3 separate regions of the Homo sapiens genome follow, and regions 2 and 3 are each linked to region 1. The links come from fine-mapping of genetic effects on gene expression. A gene starts in region 1. Each other region holds a variant in brackets. All regions are shown on one strand. Distances are from middle to middle.

Region 1 (2,762 bases):
ACTCAAGCCTTACAAAGTGTCAATAAGAGAAAAATATATTAATTGGGTAAATGTTTGTTATATCACCTTCTGAAGATAAGTTTGTTTAATATAACGTTTGGGAAATTTATTAAAGCAAAAATATTTTCTTCCTTAAAAAGTGCTATCAATTTAATGTTGTTATCTGTTGTCCTTTCAAATGTTAAATGCTTCATTTTTTTCATATCAAAGTGTGTAAAAGTTACTTATGTATTGCAATGAACATATATGTACCGCTTTATTCAATACCACACAAATATATTTGAGATTTGTGCAGCAATTCAGAAAAGAGATATGAAGTCATCTCCCTGCAAGAATATGGTCCTGCATTACATTTATCTAGAGCATAACAAAAGTAATTGTTAACAATTAATTTGTAATTATTTCTTAATGATCCTGATCGCTCATAATTTGGAGGTTGGGAATTCTACTTCTAGGATGAAACCCTGTGGCTCATAAAGTACTAGGTACAAAGTGTCATAATTTTCCCCATGCCATAATGTTTTTCTTTGAAAACAAATCAAAACAATAATAAAAGCGCTCCTGTTAGCTTGGGCTTTGCCCACAGGACAGCTGTTGTCAGTCACTACAATTTTTCAAACAGTCAGCTTGTACTTACAGCGCTTACATCTGCTGCATCCACCAGTTTAATGTGTTCCTTCGAATTTTCTGGGTTAGCAAACCTCCATTCCTGACATAGTTTTGCTCCTGGATGGGTACGCGCGGGGGCTCTCAGGCGCTCTGGTGCAGCCGCGGCGCTTCTGGGAGTGGAGCGCCTCTGCAGGGGAAAGCTCGGCGCAGGGGGCAGGCGCCTGGCCGCTGCCGCAGGCTCGGGCTGCCGAGCGACTGAGCGAAAACGTGTTCCCCAGGAAGAAACCCGCCACAGTGGACGGCAACAGGAAGGCTTAAAGTCGGAAGTGGCACTGGAGAGTTTCTACCTCGCCCCAAACTCGGAGCCATCAGCTCCCACCGTTCTGTTTGGTAACAGCTTTGCGCCCAGCGCTCCTTCCCCACCAAACAGCAGCGGCAGATAGCATCTGAGAACCCTAGACAAAGAAACAGCAGAATCTCATCCCTCGATTTGTTTGCGCAGCCTTGTAGGTCTGCCCATGGAGCCTCGGGGCTTTCTTTTTTTTTTTTTTTTTTTTTTTTTGGTTTTTGCAACGCAAACCACAGCTATTCTCTTGTCCTAACCTTATTGGTTTAAATGCAACAATTGAAAGGAGCACTGCTCTGTCTGACTCAACCTTGCTGTTTAAAAAAAAAAAAATTATGTAAATGAACGCGCCCCACGCTATCTGAATAAACAGCTGTGTGAGAATAACTTCTCTGAGACGTGGTCAACACACACGCGTCCTCTTGCAACAGTAGTTACCAATTAAGATCTTTGGGGAGTAGTTACACGTTATCTTTTACACTTTTCCTAAACTTTTTTCAGGCCCTGAAACTTAGGGAATCCACTACTTTTCATAATTTATTTCCTAACTAACGTACCTACTACTGAAACAGGTCTGGGGGAAATAAAAAACTAGAATGGCCATTTCCCTTTAAGTAGAAAATGAAAAAGCAAACGTGCAAGCTTTTATCAGTTTAATAATGAAAGCCTGAAGGATGAATCCGAAATGATTTCTAGAATGGCAAATCTTCTGTGAACAATTCCTTGGCTATGAACCAGATAATGTTTCAGTGTTAATATTTTTAAATGGTTTTTGGAAAAGATTCATGTTATCTAGAACTCTTTCTTTACAGCTTATTCTTTTAAAAAAAAATTCTTACTGACCTCGGAATCTATGCATGACAGTCTATAACACTCACCTAAAGAGCTGAGCTTCAGTTAAGATATGTTTTATACAGATACATGACTTTGGTGATAAGACTTAACCATTATGTTGATTTCAAATATTCAAAGAAGGCATCGTTTATGTGACTAATGATTGTATCTCAATTTGCCAGACCTGTGCCAACATTCAAATACAAATGTTTATTTTGATACTAGTCACTCGTTGTAACCAATTTTGTGCTCTAAAATAAAATCTTTAAGCCCATCGGATTTTTCTTAAAACTGTTTTGTCATCACCCATAGAATACTATTCTGCTGATTAGGTCTTTTATTTAAGGAAAAAAAAAGCGTCCTCATTTTTTAGGCGCTTGATAGATGTGAAAAAAATTTTAAAAATCACAATAACTTTTTGCATGACTTTATAATACATTTCCAGATCGTCAACTAATAAAACACATAGACACAATCATAACTTTATATTGCTAATATGTAAATGAAAGCACCATTCCGATGCAAACAAAAAATAAAAAGCTGCTAATGACCAAAATTTATTACAGACTTCCCCCCAACCACCGAAAGTATGCCAATCTGAATTCCTCAGAAAAGAACACTTTGTCAAACATAAACGACAGTTTAAACTGCAAACTCACCTAGGATTTCATTTTGTATAGTACCAGCAAGGAATCATGGGCTAGTCATCTACCATATTTGGGAAGCCAGGTCAAAACACAGTTGATTGCTATTGGATCTGTTCATATATGCAGCAGAAATAGAATTATGTTACCACCTACTGCACTTTCTCAGACCAGAAGTATCAGTTATTCAATATACTAAAGTATATATGCAGAAAATAAAATACAGCTTGTAATGGAGATTTCTAGCATTGTCAGATAAAATGTAATGTTGTGGTAATTCAATCTGATATCAAACAGTAAATACTTTTGCAACCACATTTATTTCTAAG
Region 2 (2,762 bases), 190 kb after region 1:
CTTTGACTTGGACCAATCAAACCACTTTTGGCCAAAGGAAAGGCCTGGGCCAGAAAGCGCTAAAACTAAGTATCTGCCTGCCTGGGCTGCCCTCCAGATGTTTCCCATTACTGGAGCTTCGAGCTCACGCACATGTCTAAGATGGCAATCACAACATCATATCAGGCCAAGAGGACCCTCCCCTCCGTCCCCCGACGTCCCAATCAGTTACCACCTCCCCGAAGGAAAACAAACCGGCCCTTGACACATCCCTCCACGTGCAGCGCCCGACGCCACGGGCCTTGGGCGGCTGCACCTCTCCCCTGCCGGCCACGGCTCAAGGCCCCATTATTGCGCGCACCCAGCTCCCTTCCAGGTGACTTTCGCGTACCTGGCGGCGGCGCCCTAGGCCTCGGAGGCTGCCCGGGCGGGCTGGGGCTCGGGCGGCGCTCGCTGAGAGTCGCGGCGCCCCTCAGCCGCTTCCCGGGCGCCGATCGCCGCCCTCCTGCCCCGGGGTGGGGCCCAGGGGCATCAGCAGCCGCGGGCTCTCGGCCGCCGCCTGGGAACTCAGGGTCAGATTTAGTTTCACAACAACGTCTCCTCGTCACGGCAACCCAACTGGAGGCAGAAGCCGGCGGGGCGGCCGAGCGGGGCGGGGCGGGAGCGCGGCCGCCGCGAGCCACGGTGGGGAGCGGGCGCGGGGGACCCTGGCGGGCCCCGGGCAGCGCGGCTGCACTTACTTGTGTCACAACTGCGGCGACGGGGGGCTGAGGAACCGGTTCTTCCAAAAGCAAACCGAAAATGGGTAACAGAGAGGCCGGGGCAGCGCTAAGAGGGGTTCTGCCTCGGTGTTTAGGGCAAAAAACCCGGCTCCGGCTTCCAGAAATTCGAGCCAGCGGTGGCTTTTTCTTTCTTTCCTCTCTAAACGCTCCTGTGCCTCCGGGTCGAGGGGCGCCCTTCGCGCGGCTCCGAGTGCACAGCGACACCAGGGCTGGCGCTGGAGAGGGGAGCCCTCTTCCCAGCACCCCTCGGGTCTCCCCCGTACCCCCACCCACAGCCCCTTTCCTGGGCCCGACGCCCCTCCGCTCTGCAGCCGGAGCCTGGGCCTGGTGCCCACTGCCCCGCGGGGTGTCTCGGACGCCTGGCCCCTGCAGCGTTTTCTACGGAGAGGCCTCAGAAACAGAAGGAGGGGGTGGTGGGTTAGTTCTGTCACCGCGAGGAAGCTAGGTGTGCATGGGGAGGTCCTGAAGGGGAG[G/A]ATGGGTGGAGTGATTTGGTGATTTGGGGCGAGGGGCTGTAGGTTGGATGTAAAGGAATATTCAGTCAGCCTGAAACTTATTAAAACATCTGGGATTCAAATACCTTTAGAAGTGATCTTAAAGGTATGTATTCTAACTTCTTACAGATAGCGTAACTGAGGCCAAGAATGGTAAATGGATTACCCCAAAGTCGGGCAGGGGAGCCTTGACTAAATGCCCAGGCCTAACCCATTGTCCTTTCTTCTAAACTTTTTGCCTTTCTTTGCACCAAGGGACGCTTTGAGCTGGTAGGGGGAAGTTTCTGTAACCCCAAAATTCCCTTGTCTCTGTAACTTAAGGGGAGCTAGAGAACCTTGATTCGACCTGCAAAGTATTTCAGCATTGGATGAAGCATCCATTACAAGCCAGTAATCTGAGATGTTCCTTCTCCAGGATCTTCCTCTTACTTGACTGGGGAATCCAATCAGGAGCAGTGAAAGATATGCAAATACCTTGATGATTTGCTCTTATAAGGACTCATCACTTCTCAGTGAGCATCAGAATGTTGGCTCTTCTCTCCCTCAGATGAAATCCCTTCCCCATCCCCCACTCAATTGTTCACATCCAATGAGATCATGTAAGCAAAAGGGCCTTAGAAAGTAGAAAGCATAGCATGAATGCAGGTATTATTGTACATACTCTTTCAAAATTGTCTAGATTCACACACTTTACTATTGTTTCTGTCAGTCATTGAGTATTTGTTGACTTGTGCTAGATGCCATGAAGAGTCAGAACAATGAGATCTAATCCTTCACCTTCAAAGGCCACAGATTATAGATTCTGTGATAAGACCAACACACAGGAAATAATCAGAAATCTACACAAAGACTGATTTTTTTTTGGTCCTTAACTGTTGGATATTTTTATGTTTTCAGACACAGAAACTTTCCAAAATAAACCATGTATGTTGGGTGAGGGAGACTTCATGTAGAAATCAATGCATCAATAAACTGTTAACCCAATAAAACCCCAATACCTTGCCCAAATAGAAATGTTAGTTAAATTACCCAGTTGATGAGGATGGCTTTTCCTTTTTGAAAAGGAAACTACTACCTATGCTTTCTACCTATTCATAAAGAATTACTATAACATAAAAAAGCAAATCCAGAGACTTAAAGATTAGGTGATCAAAAATTTTATTTGAGGGAGGAGGGGAGAAAAAATAACCCAAAGCTACCAGATATAAGTATTTGCTAAGAACTTACCAAAGGCAATGAAAGTTTCTCATGTCAAAGATGGCAGGCATACTATCTATTTGAAAATCATATTTTAAAAATCAATTTATATAGTTCAGAAGTAACATATCACCTAAAATTTTTATGTATTAATAGAAGAATTATTTTGATACTTTATCCTAGTATTCTTAAAGTTTGAGAGAACAGTTCTCAACCCAAATATCTGACCATTTTATTTTTTTAGGGAAACCCACTTTCATATGGCCTTGGATAAAAACCGATCTAAATGTTGAACGAGTTTCTGAATTTGAAG
Region 3 (2,762 bases), 130 kb before region 1:
TGTGCAAAACCTTTGATGACATGGCTTCTGTCTTTCTTTCCATTTTCTCATCTCACAAGCACTCTCTGTGTGTTCTGTGCTTTATACCTACACAGGCTCTGTTCCTAAATGTCATGCTTTCTCAAGCTCAATGTTTCTTCCTGGGGAAGTCACTGCTCCAACACTCTGCCTTGCCACCTCTCCCCAATCTGGGATAGCCATCCCATCTCTCAGACTCTAGCTAATGACCACAGACATCTCCATCATTGCTGTGATGGAATTATTCTTTCACTTTTCTGTCTCTACCCAGTATCTGGGCTCCTTGACAGCAAAGAATGTGTTTCATATTTTATCCTCAGTGCCTAGCTAGTGTCCAGAATAGAGTGAGCATGAGGACATTCAGCGCAAAGTAGCTCTTTTTAGTCTGTGATGTAGGGACTGCTCCAATATTATTTTATCGTTGTTCATTACAACAACATGTCTTTCTGTCCACTCTCTATCTATTGACCTACCTCTCAACATTTCCAAAATAGATTTTAAGTTGCCTGGGCAACTATGGCTTGCAGGTTTGTAAGACACAGTGAGAAAGAAAGCTTTCAAAGAATACAGTCAAGAAAGCCCCATCCAGTTATTAGGCCCCGCTCCATAGCATCCTTGTGTGACAGCAGCAAGGTGTTATTGACTTCCTTTCCTTTGCTAAAAAGGAATAGCCAGGTTCTCTGACTTGGCTAGAAAGGTTTTGTGCAATGATGTTTGCAAAAGAAAACCTGAGTTTCAACCTCAGCTTTACCATCACCTAACCAAGTGGCTTTGGGCAACAACCACCTCCCTTCAATTTCCCACATGTGTAAACTGCAGATAATAAGATTGAATTCACAGTGTTGATGGAGTCAGTGCTTTTGTACTGACATGAGAAAAGTTTCCCAAAGGACTGCTGCCCCCTGCCTCCTACTTCACTAAGGACGCCCAGCAGCCTGCACTGTCAGTCCAAGCGGCCTGAGAAGGGGAGGCTCTGCTCCACAGTGACTTCACACCCAGCCAGGCTCCGCTGCATGCCGTGACACCACCAGCAAGTTCCATGAGCCATCCTTCAAAACATGAGGTAGGAAGACAACGAGTAAAAGGACATTTATCAGCACAACCAAGGAAACGTGTCTTTTTACACGAAGCCAGCATCCTCATTTTCTATGAGGGACAGCACACTGTGACGGGAACCAGATACAGTAGCTACTTAACTGCCAACAGCACACCTCCCGGCATGCAACTGGGGGTGGGAGGAGCCCATGAATAAGGATGGACCCAAAGAAGTATTCTGTGATCTACCTGGAGCAGGGGCATTTGCCACTGACAGATGTTTTTTCTTTTTTCTTTTCTTTTTTTTTTTTGGTGTGTCTGGTGTGATTTCTGTTGGAATTCTACAAGAGAATTTGGCAGCAAACCACTTATTTTCTCATGCCCTTCATTCCCTCGTCCCTCCTTAAGTCACTTTCCCTTCGTCCCCTACAGCCTTACAGGGCTTGACCCAGCATTCTGCATGTAGAAGACACTCAATGGACAATAACAGCAGCATAGACTTCCTTAGTGCTTCCTGCGAGCCAGTGCTAGTTGTATGCACTTAACAGATTTTAACTCACGCAATTCTCACACTGACCCGATGAGGTATATCATCATCCAGTTTTACAGATGGGAAATTGAGGCATAAAGGGGGCCCTCACGAA[T/A]GAATGAATTCACCAGTTCCACCTCTGGTGTCTCTAGAACTGCAAGCTAACAAACCACATAAACAACACTGGGCTTTGAGTCAGGCTGGAATAAGAGAGCCATGATTACATTCAGCATTTTCCTAATTATAAGAAACATTACATATAGAAAGTAAAAACAGAAAATTTCTCTTATCCTACTATCTAGAGATAAATCAGTGTTTATTGTTGAAATTATTTCTGTATCATTTTAAATATAGAAAGCCTTTGTTTTCTGCCGGGTGCGGTGGCTCATGCCTGTAATCCCAGCACTTTGGGAGGCCAAGGCGGGCAGATCACGAGGTCAGGAGATCGAGACCATCCTGGCTAACACAGTGAAACCCCGTCTCTACTAAAAACACAAAAAATTAGTTGGGCGTGGTGGTGGGCGCCTGTATTCCCAGCTACTCAGGAGGCTGAGGCAGGAGAATGGCATGAACCTGGGAGGCAGAGCTTGCAGTGAGCCGAGATTGTGCCACTGCACTCCATCCTGGGCGACAGAGTGAGACTCCGTCTCAAAAAAAAAAAAAAAAGAAAAAAAAGAAAGCCTTTGTTTTCTTTTGATATACATACCTTTGTTTTTTAATCCCCAAACTGGAACCACGCTGCATATCATTTTATAACATACCTCTTCTATGTATATTGTGTCTTGACATTAAGGATTTTGAAAATCTGACTTAACGTAATATGAAAGTCTAATATCTTGGGTGTTTTAATTGTTAAGATTGAGATTAATCTTCATTTACTTTTAAAAGTTAACTTTTCTAAATAATAAAGGTAATGCTCATCATTGACTACTATTAGAAAAATTTGAAAATAAGTAATTAAAGAAAACATATGAGAGCCTTCCATGTACCAAATCTTGTGTCAGGAGCTCAGGATTTAAGTGGACAAATCCTGATTCCTGGCCTCAAGGGATTTCCCAGTGGGGGGTAGACCGAGGTATGCAGAAAATCTTAATAAAGTGCAGTAAATATTTTTATAGCAAGAACCAGCTCCTTTGATCATGACCAAATCCCCACTCCTGGACTGCACTGTACCTGCAGA

Direction of the effects. Positions count from the first base shown, and alleles are read on the strand shown. Sizes are in standard deviations (SD) of each study's normalised expression.
With allele G in place of A in region 2, the expression in testis of the gene that starts at base 1,060 in region 1 is lower (moderate effect, 0.56 SD a copy in GTEx).
For the expression in prefrontal cortex of the gene that starts at base 1,060 in region 1, allele A in region 3 goes with a lower level than allele T (moderate effect, 0.69 SD a copy in GTEx).

What was found. PIP is the estimated chance that this variant, and not a neighbour inherited with it, causes the effect.
Region 2: its variant is the best candidate, but not a certain one, in a credible set for the expression of EYA1 in testis (GTEx, PIP 0.64).
Region 3: its variant is the best candidate, but not a certain one, in a credible set for the expression of EYA1 in prefrontal cortex (GTEx, PIP 0.55).

What each region holds. Positions count from the first base shown.
Region 1 is chr8:71,361,010-71,363,771 of GRCh38, forward strand. It overlaps EYA1 (EYA transcriptional coactivator and phosphatase 1), which reads right to left and starts at 1,060. Exons shown (of 18, transcript NM_000503.6): 1 at 638-1,060. RefSeq lists enhancers at 467-988, 741-850.
Region 2 is chr8:71,547,145-71,549,906 of GRCh38, forward strand. It overlaps LOC102724772 (a long non-coding RNA gene), which reads left to right and starts at 501. Exons shown (of 5, transcript XR_929035.3): 1 at 501-551; 2 at 1,668-1,764. It also overlaps a transcript of EYA1 not described here. The variant G/A (reference allele first, on the strand shown) is at 1,235.
Region 3 is chr8:71,231,332-71,234,093 of GRCh38, forward strand. The region is part of intron 12 of EYA1 (EYA transcriptional coactivator and phosphatase 1); the gene reads right to left. Among named protein-coding and RNA genes, the nearest start is that of EYA1, 130 kb to the right of the region's middle. The variant T/A (reference allele first, on the strand shown) is at 1,698.